Regions from separate parts of the Homo sapiens genome. Here region 2 is linked to region 1. Evidence: fine-mapped expression QTL. A gene starts in region 1. The other region holds a variant in brackets. All regions are shown on one strand. Distances are from middle to middle.

What was found. PIP is the estimated chance that this variant, and not a neighbour inherited with it, causes the effect. A credible set is the group of variants that fine-mapping cannot tell apart.
Region 2: its variant is the best candidate, but not a certain one, in a credible set for the expression of LINC02016 in prefrontal cortex (ROSMAP, PIP 0.78).

The regions. Positions count from the first base shown.
Region 1 is chr3:127,389,616-127,392,519 of GRCh38, forward strand. It overlaps LINC02016 (long intergenic non-protein coding RNA 2016), which reads right to left and starts at 1,055. Exons shown (of 5, transcript NR_110147.1): 1 at 831-1,055. RefSeq lists an enhancer at 2,077-2,888.
Region 2 is chr3:127,444,888-127,447,791 of GRCh38, forward strand. No RefSeq gene overlaps it. Among named protein-coding and RNA genes, the nearest start is that of LINC02016, 56 kb to the left of the region's middle. The variant G/C (reference allele first, on the strand shown) is at 1,293.

The DNA.
Region 1 (2,904 bases):
GCTCGCATGGCAAGTATTTCCTGAGTCCCTACAGTGCGCCAGGAACTCTAAGAGTCACAGGGCATACCACCGTGAGAGCACCAAGATGTGCAAGCCCCTCGGGAGAGGGGACAGGGCAGGGTCATCCCATCTGGGGCCAGGAAGGGCTTCCTGAGCCAGTGCAGATGACGCTCAAACCCAAAGAATGTGATGCAGTTAACTGGACAAAGACTTGGTAGTGGGGTGCAGGGGAGCAGAGGAGAACGTTCTAGAAGTGCTAAGGCCCAGCAGTGGCTGGGAGGGCCTGAAAGAAGGCCAGAGTGTCTGGGGAACACAGATGTGGGGGAGCCCTGGTGGGAGCCTGGAGGAATGGGCAGGGCCAGCTTGAAGGGTGTCCTTGGACCCTGAGTGAGGATTCCAAAGGCTTTTGGGGAGACCAGGTGGGCATTAACCCCGTCAGGCCACTCCCACCTGCTCCACCTGGTTCCAGGTACCAGAGACACCCCATCAGCAGGCACAGGGGCCCCAGCAGCAGCCACATCTCCACAGCCTGACCTCCCACCCCCACAGCTCACCCCAAGCCCAGGTGTTCTGAAAACAGCCCACACCTCTGCACCCCCAGCGTAGCCCACCCTTTTGGTCCTCTTCTTGTTAAAAGACTTACCCTAAAGAGGCAGCTCAGACTCCACCTCCTCCAGGAAGGCTTTTCTGATGCTGTGCAACCCCAAGCTGGATGCTACTGATGGTTTGTGCTGGCAGAGCTGCCCCTATGTCCCTTGATTCTATTCCTGTATCACTATTGACAGTCCCACAGAGCAGTGACATCCCCGGGTCAGGGGCTCTGCACTCACCTGGGATGCTCGACCCTGCATGGGTCACAGTGGCAGCTCCAGAACCGCTAGGTAGGGTGGGGGCTAAATCCCGGCAGGCCGGGTGTCACTATGCTGTGCTGCATTGGCACTGTGTTCTCCTTACACAGGTGACCTGGGCAGGGGCTCTGAGGAGCCGGTGGCGAGTCTGAGGTCTCAAGTGCCCAGGCCCTGTGTGCAGCTACAGAGTTAGGGGCCGGCAAGTGCAGGATTGGCTGTGGAGAGGCACAGGCTGAATTTGGCCCAGCGTAAGCGTTCTGGGAATGTGTGGTGTTGCTACTGGGACTTGGGCTGCCTTGGGTGTGGCTGCATACCGTGGGCCCAGGGAGGTGGGGAGTGGGGACTGCGGGGAGTCTGGGGAGTCACTGAAGATGCAGGTGCTGAAAGACACAGCCATCTTCAGGCAAGCCCGGGCTGAAGGGTGCAGGAACTCAGACTGTCCTGGGGGTTGGGGTGTTTCCCAGAGGTGCTCGTGCTGGGTAAAGGCCAGGGGCAAAGGGAGGAAGCCCAGCCCAGGGTTCGTCCATGCCACACCTCAGGGTCAGGCTCCCAGGGAGCCATGCTGAGCATGGCAGTGAGCACAGAGGTTGGAGCACCACGTCCTGGGGCCCACACCTTCACCTCTTCATCCATAATAGACACAGTGGGACCCCCTGGCCAGTGGGGAGGAGGAGGCACAGAGGCTGCGGGAAGCTCCCAGCACAGGACCCTGGGCTCCATAGTGTGGGTGCCGTTTCCTGCAGAACAGGGACTCAGACATGGACAACCAAAAGTTATCAGAATTGGGGTGCTTAGTAGGGACTAGATCCTGTACAGCCAGCCAAAGAGTAACTAAGCGCCCACTGTGTTACAAGTGCTTTGTCTACTTAGAGGTGAAGGCACTTACCTCTGTGGCAGATGCAGGGATGTGCCTCAGACCTGCTTCATGGAAGGATACACTGCCCAGCTGCTAGGGGCTGTAACCAGACGTGCTCAGCATCACCCCCAGTTGCAGACAGACAGCACCCCTGTGCCATCCTCCCCAGGCCCATGTCCTATGACTGAGCCACACAGGCCTGGACAACCCCCTGCTCAGGACAGCTCTGGTCTACTCCAGTCCCAGGCCCAAAGGGAGTCCTGGCTGTCCTTGTGCCAGCAGTGAAGCTCGGTGTCTCCTCTGCCTGCTCCTGCTCCTCCCTCCCTGCCCCAGACCCGGTCCAGGCCCTCCTGAGAGCCCCTGTAGCTGGTCCCAGGCACCGACACCAGGCTTCCATGGGGCTGATAACCAGCGGGCGAGGTGACAAAACACCAAGTCAGAGGGAGCTTTCCAGGCTCTGCTGCAGGAGCTGTGCAGGCGAGGCAGAGAGCAGCCTGGGGGTGTCCAGAAGGATGTCCCTCGAGGACAGACACTCACATGGAGCCCTGGAGGCTGCAGAGGACACAGCCCTGCTGTGACAGCCAGGAAACAGTATCCCAAGCCATGGGGACAGCAAAGGCTAGGCCGAGGTCTGATGCAGGAGGAGCTGGAGGGCAGAGGGCGGGCGGAGCACCGCCTCGGGAACGAAACAGCTGGGGAACCTGGAGGGCACCTGGATGGTTACCTCTAGGTCACTGTGGAACTGATCTGCCTGCATCCTCCCTCCTGTTTCTGGGGCTGGCCAAGGCACGCTGGAGCTGGGGCTGGGGCTGGGGCTGGGGCTGGAGCTGGCAGGCCGAGGTTCCCACCCCACAGGCACCGGAGATGAGTTGGTAAGAAAAGGGCACCCTCTGGCTGCACTGATTCTGCTGAGGGCTCGGAGGCTCATCTCCCTGGGGGCAGCCCCGGGCGCAGCTGCTCTAAAATCACCCACTCAGCCATTTCACAGGCAGAAATCCTTCGCTTCAGGCATTTGCATCCAAAGCTGTCCGCAGCCTACTCCCCACCGTGGCTGGGTTTAATCTGCTAGCACTGGGGCTGTGGGGCTGGGACAATTAATTAAAGATCCCAGGGAGCAGCCAGCTCTCATTAAGTCCTGCATCAGATGGGAGGGGTGCTGGGGAAGAACACTCTTGCCGAGACTGCACTTTTGCCCCAGCC
Region 2 (2,904 bases), 55 kb after region 1:
GCAGGCTCTGGCCTAGCCTGCAGGCCTCCTCCCTACCCCAGCCCTTCCACCTGACGACCCAGTGACCAAGTGGACGACCCATGCCAAGTCCAGCACCCTGGGCTCTCAGGATCTCAATCCTCCACTCCATCCCAGCCTCCCAGGCCCTCAGCCACACCTTTAGGGTCAGCACCAGAAACCTACTGGATCTCCAACCAAATACCAGTTCTCCCTGATTGCTTTCATCCAAGCTCCACCATACCTATTCCTCCCCTTTGCAGAAACTCTCCCCCAATGGGAAGCTGTGAATCGTAGGGGTGGGCTCTGGAGCTGGACTGCCTGGGTTCAAATCCCACCTGCGCCAATGACTGGCTGTGTGACCTTTCTGTGCCTCGATTTCTTTATGTACAAAAGGCCTGAGGATGGCTCATCTTCATTCATTCAATAGTTGCTGAGTACCTGCCGTGTATCAGCCCCAGGACTGGGAACTGGGCATGAACCACGTAAAAGGAGACAAAACCCTTGTCCTCACGGAGGGAGAAACAACAGAACATGATAATTAAAATACACAACATAGCAAAGAGTGGTGGTTAAGCACTTGCAGCAAGACCAGGCTGGCCCTGACTGACCCAGCCAGAGCAGACACAACGAGCCACTTTTAGATTCTGACAGTGTGTGACCTGCATGGACAATGAAAGGAAGAGTCAGGGACAGTGTCATGTCCAGGGTCCCTGTCCTGCACACCTAAAATGATGCCACCAAAGCCAAGGGCCTGGACGACCACAGTCCGAGTTGGGTCTGAGTTGTGGGACACCCCATCACCGAGGAACCTGACACAGCTTGACTGCAGTTAAGTGGCTTTGAATTCCACAGCTCTATTCTGCTGGGGACCCAGGAGGCACTGCGGAGCTGCCTCAGCACTGCCTCCCAGGGGAGAGGCCTCCATCCTCCGGTGTTCCAGGAGGACTGCAGGGTGTCGTGCCAAGCTGGGTTAGGCTGTGGTTCAAGGGTGGGAACCTTTGCTGCGTGGCCCTGTGGCTGCATGCAGGGCGCCAAGGCGGAGCCGTTCCCTTATGCAGGGATGGAGGTGGTGTTATCTTTTTAAATTGGATGCCCAGAGAAGGCTTCACTGAGAAGGTAAGCTTGAGCAAATGCCTGAGTGAAGTGAAGAAGCAGGTTATGTGAGTATCTGGGAGAAGATGGTCCCAGGCAGAGGGAACAGCAGGATGCAAGGCCCTGAGGCAGGGTGGGGCTACATACCTGTGGAAAGGGAAGAAGTCACAGTGGCCAGGGTGGAGTCAGGAGTGGGAGGA[G/C]AGGCAAGAGCCAGTCATGCAGCGACAGGTGCCTAAACATGTCGAGCCCTGAGGGCCAATGTTGGGACTGAATTCTACTCCGAATAAGGTGAGAATCGGTATGGGGCTTAGGGAATAGACTGAGGGGCAAGGAGATGCCTCAGGAGCTTTCACAACAGTCCAGGCAAGACATAATGTCACTTGGTCCAGAGTGAAGGAGCAGAAGTGGTCTGATTCTGCTAATATTTTGAAGGTGGAGATGACAAGCTCTGGGTGGGGGATCATAAGAGACAAAGAGCCAAGAATAACACCAGGTTTTTGGCCTAAGCAGTCAGAAGGAAGAATGATGGGAAAGGCTGCAGAAGAAGCAGGATGGGGAGAGGTCAGGGGCTTGGTTTGGGACCTGTTGAGTTTGAGGCTCCCAACTGACCTTCAAGTGCTTGTCACATCGGCAGGAGGCAGGGTCATGGACTAGAGTGGACACAGGCCCAGGGTACAGCAAGGGCCAGGTGTGCAGCAGTCACCCGCAAAGGTGAGTTCCTTCTCCTGTTGACAGGTCTACTTTCTTACCTGTTAGAGGAAAGTGTCTCTTTCTCTCTTTCCCTCTTACATTCCAGGATCCATGATTCAACCACCCCCCTCGCTCTTGCCCTATCATCCTGCCATTGTACCTCCCATCTGGCAAGAACTCCAGCCTCAATGGATTCATCTGCCTGCCTGCTCTGTGCCTGTGCCAGACTGTGGGACACTGTTGGAAAGCATCAGACCACGCGGGGGACTGGTGCCACCATGCATGCCCTGGGAATTGTAGGCACTCCCTCACCACCCACACCCACCAAGTTCAGGCACTCTGACTCCTTCTTGTATCTCTTATCCATAGCTCTCCTCCATCCCCACTGGCTAAATAATAGCCACCAAAGTTGTCCATGCCCACACTGGAGTGGTGGTGCATGTCTGTAATATCAGCTACTTGGAAGGCTGAGGCAGGAGGATCGCTTGAGGCCAGGAGCTAGAGACCAGCCTGGGCAACACAGTGAGGCCCCATCTCTAAAAATGGTTTTAAAAATATTCACCAGGCATGGTATTGCATGCCTGTAGTCCCAGCTACTAGGGAGGATGAGGCAAGAGGATCCCTTGAGCTTGGGAATTTGAGGATACAGGGAGCTATGATTGCACCACTGCACTCCAGCCTGGATGACAGAGTGAGACCCCATCTCTAAAAAACAAACAGCTGAAAGATGTCTGTGTCCTAATCCCTGGAACCTGAGAATATACCAACTTACGTGCGAACAAGATTTTGCAGATGTGATTAAGTCAGGGATTTTGAAATGAAGAGCTTATCCTGGGTTATCCAGGTGGCCTCAATGCAACCACAAGGGTCCTTATAAGAGGGAGGCAGGAAGATCAGAATCAGGGAGAAGAGATGTGATGACGGAAGCAGAGGCTGGAGTAATGAGATTTGAAGACGGAAAAGAGGCCACAAGCCAAGAAATGCAAGTGGCCTCTAGAAGCTGGAAAAGCTATGAAAACAGATTCTCCCCTAGAGTTACCACAAAGGAAGGCGACTTGGCCAACACCTTGATTCTAGTCCAGTGAGGCCCATTTCAGACTTCCGACCTGCAGAGCTATAAGG